Homo sapiens: one gene and its partners. The protein of the gene in region 2 purifies or fractionates together with the protein of the main gene of each other region. This does not show direct contact. Each region holds a gene or a part of one and is shown on either strand. Other genes may lie near its edges.

Region 1 (3,172 bases), on a different chromosome or scaffold from region 2:
GGTGCTGGGGAGGAAATAGCAGAAGCCCTTTCTAGGCCTGGACGGGAAGCATGTCTGGAAGCGCGAGCGCACACAGGTGATGGGGCTAAGCCTGACTCACCCCAAAAGGAGACCCTGGAGGTTGAGAACCAGCAGGAAGGAGGCCTGAAGCCACTGGCACAGGAACATGGACCCAGGTCAGCACTTGGAGGTGCAAGGGAGGTCCCCGATGCGCCTCCTGCTGCCTGCCCTGAGGTCAGCCAGGCCCGGCTCCTGAGCCCAGCCAGGGAGGAAAGAGGCCTGAGTGGCAAGTCCACCCCGGAGCCCACGCTTCCCTCAGCTGTGGCCACAGAGGCCAGTCTGGACTCCTGCCCAGAGTCTTCAGTAGGGGCTGTGTCCAGTCTGGACAGAGGCTGCCCTGACGCGCCTGCCCCCACGTCTGCACCAACCTCCCAGCAGCCGGAGCCTGTACTGGGTCTGGGCAGTGTTGAGCAACCCCACGAAGTACCCAGTGTCCTTGGCACCCCCTTGCTGCAGCCCCCAGAAAACCTTGCCAAGGGTCAGCCCAGCACGCCCGTGGACAGGCCCCTGGGCCCTGACCCTTCTGCTCCTGGTACCCTTGCTGGGGCAGCCCTACCCCCACTGGAGCCCCCAGCCCCCTGCCTGTGCCAGGACCCCCAGGAAGACTCTGTGGAAGACGAGGAGCCCCCAGGCTCTCTGGGCCTCCCACCGCCCCAGGCAGGAGTCCAGCCTGCCGCTGCTGCTGTCTCAGGAACCACACAGCCTCTGGGGACTGGGCCGCGAGTCAGCCTCTCGCCTCACTCCCCACTCCTCAGCCCCAAGGTGGCCTCCATGGATGCCAAAGACCTGGCCTTGCAGATCTTGCCGCCTTGCCAAGTGCCTCCTCCCTCTGGGCCCCAGAGCCCAGCTGGCCCTCAAGGGCTCTCAGCCCCCGAGCAGCAAGAGGATGAGGACAGCCTGGAGGAAGGTAAGGCAGAGGGTGGGAGTGAAGTGCCCTGGGGCTTGGGTCAACTGGACTCCTCCTTAGAGCTGTCCTGAGCTGGAGGGCCTCTGAGGTGGCGAGGTGGGGGGCCCAGACCCCACAGCCACCATGGAGAGCTGGCACTGCTTCCTCTGGCCCTGATGTGGCAGCAGGGCCAGGGTCCTGAACCCCCTTCCCCGCCACCTAGAAGCAAAAGGCCATCCTCACACCTCTCCCCTTCCCCAGACTCGCCTCGGGCCCTGGGCTCGGGCCAGCATTCGGATAGCCACGGGGAGTCATCAGCCGAGCTGGACGAGCAGGACATCTTGGCTCCTCAGACCGTGCAGTGTCCAGCCCAGGTGCCCAGTCCAGGGAAGAGGGTGGGCCTCTGGGAGGGCCCCACACCCCACCCATGGATGCTCAGCCCTCACCTTTTCTCAGGCCCCAGCAGGCGGCAGTGAGGAGACCATCGCCAAAGCCAAGCAGAGTCGCAGTGAGAAGAAGGCCCGAAAGGTGGGCTGGTGGCTCCCTCTGGGACCTCAGGCCTGGGACCATCTGTGTGGGGAACGTCCTTACCAAGACCCTCACACTCCATGGCTAATGAAATCCCATCCATCAGGGGACCTTTGGGTCCATGCCAGTAACCCACACACCTTCCCCTAAACAGCTGAGGCTGGAATGTCATGAGAAGGCCCTTATAGACTGAGGCTCATGGGGAAGGACCAACCACCAGCCCAAGGTCTTGGGGAAGTTGGCGGTGGAGACTTTGCCTTCCTGGGCACTGTGCTGCTCTCCTCCCCCGACGTGGGTCAACACCAGGTCTGAGCCCCCCTCTGCCCTCTACTCCCAGGCAATGTCAAAGCTGGGCTTGCGGCAGATTCAGGGAGTCACCAGGATCACCATCCAGAAGTCCAAGAACATCCTCTTTGTCATCGCCAAGCCTGATGTCTTCAAGAGCCCAGCCTCAGACACTTATGTGGTCTTTGGCGAGGCCAAGGTCTGGGTGGCGGCTGTGGTGGAATGGGGGATCCGAGGGATAGGGGACAAGGGGGGGACAGGCTCTACTGACACAGCTGTCTTCCATTTTGCAGATTGAGGACCTGTCCCAGCAAGTGCACAAAGCCGCAGCTGAGAAGTTTAAGGTGCCCTCAGAGCCCTCAGCCTTGGTCCCTGAGTCAGCACCCAGGCCCCGGGTGAGGCTGGAGTGCAAGGAAGAGGAAGAGGAGGAGGAGGAAGAGGTGAAGTGCAGGGGCTCCAGGGCCTCGCAGGGGGTGGTGGGAGGCGCTACATGGGGGCTCTGCCCCAGGGACCTCAAGCAGCTCCAGCCACTTCCCTGCTCCCCCAACTCCAGGTGGACGAGGCGGGGCTGGAACTGCGTGACATTGAGCTGGTGATGGCGCAGGCCAATGTGTCCAGGGCCAAGGCCGTGCGGGCTCTGAGAGACAACCACAGTGACATCGTCAACGCCATCATGGTGAGTGAGCACTGGCCCCTTTCCCTACCCCTGAGCTGTCCCCAAGGGCCTCGAGAGGTCCTGATGTTGGCTCCACTGCGGGGTGCTTCCCCCAACATGACCATCTCTTTCTGCAGGAACTGACCATGTAGCCACTGACCGGAAGCTGGAGCCATCCTACGCCTTCCCTCAGCTCTGCTACTCAATAAATCGGTGTCCCTTCATTGCCCTCTGGTGTCTCCTCCTCGCCCTCTGGAGTCCCATCATCACCATCTGGCATCCCTTCACTTCCCTCTGGTGTCCCTTCACCACCATCTGGTGTCCCCTTACTGCCCTGTGGTGTCCACTCATTACTCTGTGGTGTCCCCTCACTGCCCTCTGGTGCCCCCTCATCACCCTCTGGTGTCCCTTCATCACCCTCTTGTGTCCCCTCACTTCCCTCTGGTGTCCCCTCATCACCCTCTTGTGTCCCTTCATCACCCTGTGTCCCCTCACTTCCCTCTGGTGTCCCCTCACCACCCTCTGATGTCCCCTCATTACTCTCTGGTGTCACCTCAATACTCACCAGTGTCCCCTCACTGCCCTTTGGTGTCCCCTCATTACTCTCTGGTGTCCCCTCACCGCCCTCTGGTGTCCCCTCAATACTCCCCGGTGTACCTTCACCACCCTCTGGTGTCCCCTGCTCTCTGGTGTCCCAATACTCTCTGATGTCCCAATACTCTCTGGTGTCCCCTCATTACTCTCTGGTGTCCCCTCAC
Region 2 (2,594 bases):
GAGTGCTGAAACTTGATATGAAAATAGTTTTTTTTTTAAAAATAGGGTCTCACTTTGTCACCCAGGCTAGAGTGCAGTGGCATGACCATGGCTCACTGCAGCCTTGACCTCTTGGGTTCAAGTGATCCTTCCACCTCAGCCTCCCAAGTAGATGGGACTACAGGCGCATGCTACCACACCCAGCTAATTTTTGTATTTTTTTGTAGAGATGGGGTTTTTGCTATGTTGCCCAGGCTGGTCTCCAACTGCTGGGCTCAAGCGATCCACTCATCTCCACCTCCCAAAGTGATGGGATTACACGCATCAGCCACAATGCCCCAAAACAGTTTCTATTAAAAAATCTGAACACGGCTGGGCACGGTGGCTCACACCTCTAATCCCAGCACTTTGGGAGGCTGAGGTGGGCGGATCACGATGTCAGGAGATCGAGACCATCCTGGCTAACACAGTGAAACTGCATCTCTACTAAAAATACAAAAAATTAGCTAGGCATGGTGGTGGGCGCCTGTAGTCCCAGCTACTCGGGAGGCTGAGGCAGGAGAATGGCGTGAACCTGGGAGGCAGAGCTTGCAGTGAGCCGAGATCACACCATTGCACTCCAGCCTGGGCAACAGAGCAAGACTCCGTCTTTAAAAAAAAAAAAAAGAAAATACACACACACACACACAGAAAATGGACATTCTAGAATCTGCTAGCTTCACTGTATTGGCAGATAGACCCAGTTCTTTCTCATACAGCCCTTATGAATGGACTGTATTTTCTGTCCTCCAAAGACATTCAAACATGCACTGCACCCAGAGTGTTTCAGCAGCTGAAACACCTTTTGTATTTGACTTAAATCATCTAAATGTGTTAACAGCCATCCCAGATTCTACCAAGTCTAGAATCATTTCCACGTATTGAGGATTCCAGACTGTTCCTGTCTGGACATTCCCTTTATGCTTCTTGACTTTTCTAAAATGCTAAAGACTCCAAGGTGTTTCACACTTAATTTCTCAACCAGCTGTTCAAGCAGTTCTCATCCTAATCAAGAGAGCTAGAGATACTGAAAGAAAAGAATAAAGAGTTTGGGGCTTATGGTTCTGCAAAACATCGAAGGGAGAAAAAGTGGGGAACCAGCAAATGTTCAGAAGTGAATGTAATCATAACAAAGTGACCTTTCAAAACAAATTCCCCTTTTACAAAAACATTTCTTTCCACATAAAAGACTCGTCTTCAAGATAAAGAGCCTCTTCAGGCCAGGTGCAGTGGCTCATGCCTATAATCCCAGCACTTTGGGAGGCCATGGCAGGACTGCTTGAGCCCAGGAGTTCGAGACCAGCCTGGGGAACACAGGGAGCCAGCCCTCCTCTGCAGCAAAAATAAAAAAAATTAGCTGGGTGTGTCGGCTTGTGCCTGTAGTCCCAGCTATGCAGGAGGATGAGGTGGGAGGATCACCTGAGGGAGTGCGAGGCTGCGGTGAGCTCTAATTGTACCACTGCACTCCAGCCTGGATGACAAAGACCCTGTCTCAAAAACAAACAAACAAAAGAGCCTTCTCTACCATCCTGGTCTGTAAGTGTTGGGATTTTGGTTTTAAAAATCCAGAAAGAACAACAAACCTTTCAATCATTTGTTTTCAGATGCAGAAAGGGGCAGGGAAAGAAAATCAACATGTATGCTACAGAAATATGACAGTTTTAATTTTCTAAGTCTTTCAAGAAAAAAACTATAGTTGAATGGTAGGTATACAGGTATTTATTTAATTTTTTTTCTTTTCTTTTTTTTTTTTTGAGACAAGGTCTCACTGTCACCCAGGCTGGAGTGCAGTGGCACAATCTTGGCTCACTGCAACCTCAACCTCTCGGGATCAAGCAATTCTCCCGTCTCAGCCCCCCAAGTAGCTGGGACTACAGGTGCTCACTACACACCTGGCTACTTTTTGTATCTTTTGTAGAGATGGGGTTTCGCTATGTTGCCCAGGCTGGTCACAAACTCCTGAGCTCAAGCGATCCACCTGCCATGGCCTCCCAAAGTTCTGGGATTATAGGCATGAGCCACTGCGCCTGGCCTAATGTTATCCTTTACACCTCATATATATAAATATTACTTTGTACCTATTAAATAAAAAATTAAGCAGTCTCACGTGTCTTAAAGAACCACACTTTGCTTTTAGGGTCCCTGCCTCTTTGAATGCGCTTTGCCTATTTTATTTTTTTGAGACAGGGTCTCACTTTGTCATCCAGGCTGGAGTGCAGTGGCGAGATCATGGCTCACTACAACCTCCACCTCCCTGGGCTCAGGTGATCCTCCCACGTCAACTTCCTAAGTAGCTGGGACCACAGGTGGATGCTAGCACACCTGGCTAATTTTCGTATTTTCGGTAGAGATAGGGTTTTGCCATGTTGTCCAGGCTGGTCTCGAACTCCTGGGCTCAAGTGATCTGCCTGCCTTGGCCTCCCAAAGTGCTGGGATCCCAGGCATGAGCCCTCAGGCACATAAGCTACCACACCTGGCCCTGCCTAATTATTTAAACCTAAGTCAAAAGACATAACTTTATAATTACTGTTACATAAGAAAAAAGATAGGTATGCTGAACATGGCAATCATTCAAT
Region 3 (3,655 bases), on a different chromosome or scaffold from region 2:
TTTTTTAATTGACCCCTTTATCTTTCTAAAATGACCATTTTTATTCCTGGTAATATTTTTTGCCCTATAATTTATTTTGTCTGATATTAACAATCCATTCCCAATTTCTGTTGATCAGTGTTGCATAATACATTTTTTCCCCAACCTTTCACATTTAATCTATATGTGTTTTCATAGCTATAGTTAGTTTCTTATAGGCAGCATATAGTTAGGTCTTGCTTTTTTTTACTCAGTCTAACAATCTCTGCCTTTTAGTTGAAACGTTTAGACAATTTACATTGTGATTATTGATATGGTTGGGTTTCCATTCAAATTCTATAGAAATCCTGCTATTTGTTCAATCTGTTCTTTTTCCCCTCTTTTCCTGCCTTATTTTGGATTAATTAGAATATTTATTATGATTCCATTTTATCCCATTTGTTGGCTATTAGCTATAACTCTTTTTCAGAAGTTAAGGATTTTATATTATATATTTTACTTACCACAGTCTACTTTAAAGTAATATTATGCACTATTCCACATATACTATAAAGAACCTGACAACAGTACACTTCCATTTCTTTTCTCCTAGACCTTGTACTGTTGTTATACAATTCAATATTGAAGCGAGAGATTCTCCAGAACTTGCCCAGAAGCCAAGACGTCTGGAAAGGATCTCAGCCTCTGTCAGCCTGCAGCTTGGGAAGAGTGATTCACAGAGCCTGACTGTCCACTGCTGCTAAACCATACACTGGCCTTGGCTCACACATCTGACTGAACTGTCTCCTATGACTAACTGCCTCTCTTTCTTCAGCCTTGCAAGTTTCCTGGGAGTCCTGGGAGTGGACTTCACATATAAAAGGGGACTCTGGGAGACCTAGTTCCTGGCTTCTCTTCTGGAAGTCAGGGAAGAGTATAGGAAGGAGTGGCCACAGTGCCCAACTGACAATTGACAATTTCACCAAGTAAGTCCTTTTTGGGTTACTAGTCTTGTTTTCTTTTCTTTTTTTTTTTTTTTGGTAATTTCTAATTACCAAAAAGCAGTAAGACAGCCTCTGGAGAAATCTGTACAGCCAAAACACATATTAATGATCAAATATTAATATTTGTTTCCCTTTCAATCAAGAAAAGAAGACTAGCAATCCCCTTATTAGGTTAAATATTTATGGCATTCTTAAGGTTACCGTATTACTACATTCCAGATAATAACCAGGATATGCTTCTACCAGCTTAAAAAAAAGGCACAAGGTTAAGAAACAGCTCCATTATCTATAAATAAGCCAAACTGCTTTTTAAGATTTCATTAGTTAATGATACACACAAACTTGCATACAAAACCTGGCTTGCACAGTGTGTCAGGCTAAATTATAAACTGCTTTAGGATTTGGTTTCGATATTACTGCCTTGCAAAACTGACACACAGGGACAAGATATGGGTGAAAGGCCCAGTGCAGTAGCTCATGTCTGTAAACCCAGCACTCTGGGAGGCTGAGGTGGGCGGATCACTTGAGGTCAGGAGTTTCCAGACTTGCCCGACCAACATAGTGAAACCCTGCCTCTACTAAAAATACAAAAAATTAGCCAGGTATGGTGGTGGCGGGTGCCTGTAACCCCAGCTACTTGGTAGCCTGAGGCAGGAGAATCGCTTGAACCGGGGAGGCAGGGGTTGCGGTGAGCCAAGATTGCACCACTGCACTTCAGCCTGGGCGACAGAGCAACACTCCATCTCAAAAAAAAAAAAAAAAAAAAAAAGATATGAGTGAAGACACTGGTATCTTAATAGTCAAGCTGCTCTTAGGGGAAGAACTTTATTTTTGAGAAAAATTACTTGTTAGGCCTTTTAACGTGAGCCTCTTCATTTTACATGAGGGATCTTGAAGGTGCGTTCTGAAGGGAAACTGCAAATCAGAGATGGCTAGACCACTCTGTAGTAGCAGCTAAAACTTTGGGGCTAGGAACCAGTAGGAGGCAGAGGAAAGGGGAAAGTGCACGCAGGTTAGCAAAAGGCTAAAATCTGCAGAGAAGGAAGCCAGTGAGAAACGCCCAGTGGAGGAGGGAGCAATGGACTTCCAGAAACCAGGACATCCACAGTTCCATTTTCAGTTGTCTGCTGTGCTCTGCTATCCTGAACCTTTGGGAAAATGCCACTACAAATAGCCCTATAGAGGTGGTATTTAAGGAACAAAGAACAGGAGCAGTTTTGAGACAGCAGAAAAGGACACATAAGCACAGCAAAGTGACTAAAAAACTCACTTAGGTCCAAATCACAGTCACAGAGTGAGCTTGCGCCCCCACCCTTGGACTCAGAGAAGCTGGTGTTTGGCACTCCAGATGCAAAAATGGAGTTCATAGTTAGGAATGTGCTCTGCCAACTTAGAAAAAAAATTTTTTTTGAGATAAAGAGGGTAGAAGAAAATGTAAAATCACTGTAGAAAAACTTCAAGGTGAGGCATGAGGGCAGGTGCTGAAAAGGTGGAAGGAGAGTCCAGGCAGTTGGACAGAACAAACTAGTCGTTTTCATCCACTATTTGCAAGAATTAAAAAAAAGTTTGATAACACATTGGTTGGCCTGGGGAAACAGGTATGTTCATATGTTGCAGGAGGGAGAGAAGAACCTGCTTTATGGAGAGCAACTTGGAAATATTTATTACAAATTAAAATGCAAATGCCCTTTGTTCTGGTAAATCCAACTGTAAGATAATGTGTCCTATAGAGCTACACAAGTCAAGTGACTTAGGCTTACTGCAGCCTTGCTTATAACAAGCAAAAGATGGAAATAATCTATATGTCATTAATAACAGGCTGGCTATGAAAGTTATGATAGACTCGTGATATAGAGTATTACATGGCAATATAAAAATAAAAGAACGAGGAAGCCCTTTATATATTGAAAGGGACTGGTCTCCAAGATAGATGATCGGGTGAAAGAAGCAAACGACAGCCTAGTGTGCACTGTGTGCTACAGTCTGTGTAGTAACAGGAGGGGTGGTAGCCAAAGGAAAAAGATACTGTCTATGTTTAGAATCTCTTTGAAAGGACAGCCCAGAAACCTGTAACACTGAAACTGGCGACATGCTCTTGCTGGGAGCAAGAAAAACAGAGTGGCTGGGAAACAGGGATAGGAGGGAAGAAGGCTTCTCATAGAAAATATTTTTTTTTCTTTTTTTCCTCTTTAAAGTTTAGAATCACACAAATGTATTCACTATCTAAAATATAAACCACCACTGAAAACAGACATAAATATCAGAGGGCTGCTCTAGGAAGGTGAGAATTCTGCAGTGTATAGCGCCTTGGCTCACTCCCGCTTCCCTTCCTGGAGCTCCCTCTACAGTGCTCAGAGTCCTCTGCTGCCCCTGCCCCTGCCCTGTCCAATGACCCCAAGTGCCCCAGACTCCTCTCACCCCTCCTGGCCCTGCTGCAATTGGTTTTCACTCCCATACCTCCCTGCTTCACCGTGGGTCATCCAAGACCTTCTCATCACATTCAAGGGCTTCTTCTCAGCCACATCCTCCTGGACTTCAGACATGAGTGACCCTTACCTGGACCTTCTTCAAACTCACTCCTTCCTTTCTTCTCTTACCTCATGCTACCGAGGTTTTCTTTTCACATTTCACTTTCTTTCTTCATTTTACCCAAGATGTGCATATTTCCCAAAGCTCAGTCTTCATCCCTCTAT

What was found.
Region 1: the proteins of WDR53 (region 2) and NACAD purify together in Homo sapiens (affinity purification with mass spectrometry; one large-scale study listed by BioGRID and IntAct). This does not show direct contact.
Region 3: the proteins of WDR53 (region 2) and BLVRA purify together in Homo sapiens (affinity purification with mass spectrometry; 2 studies listed by BioGRID and IntAct, with this or other methods). This does not show direct contact.

What each region holds. Positions count from the first base shown.
Region 1 is NC_000007.14:45,079,903-45,083,074, reverse strand, and holds the end of NACAD (NAC-alpha domain-containing protein 1), read left to right. Parts: coding exon 1-967; intron 968-1,207; coding exon 1,208-1,320; intron 1,321-1,402; coding exon 1,403-1,474; intron 1,475-1,811; coding exon 1,812-1,958; intron 1,959-2,052; coding exon 2,053-2,199; intron 2,200-2,312; coding exon 2,313-2,435; intron 2,436-2,551; coding exon 2,552-2,566; 3' UTR 2,567-2,638; downstream 2,639-3,172. UniProt on the Homo sapiens protein: May prevent inappropriate targeting of non-secretory polypeptides to the endoplasmic reticulum (ER).
Region 2 is NC_000003.12:196,556,026-196,558,619, forward strand, and holds part of WDR53 (WD repeat-containing protein 53), read right to left. Parts: intron 1-2,594.
Region 3 is NC_000007.14:43,782,675-43,786,329, reverse strand, and holds part of BLVRA (biliverdin reductase A), read right to left. Parts: intron 1-3,655. UniProt on the Homo sapiens protein: Reduces the gamma-methene bridge of the open tetrapyrrole, biliverdin IXalpha, to bilirubin with the concomitant oxidation of a NADH or NADPH cofactor. Does not reduce bilirubin IXbeta.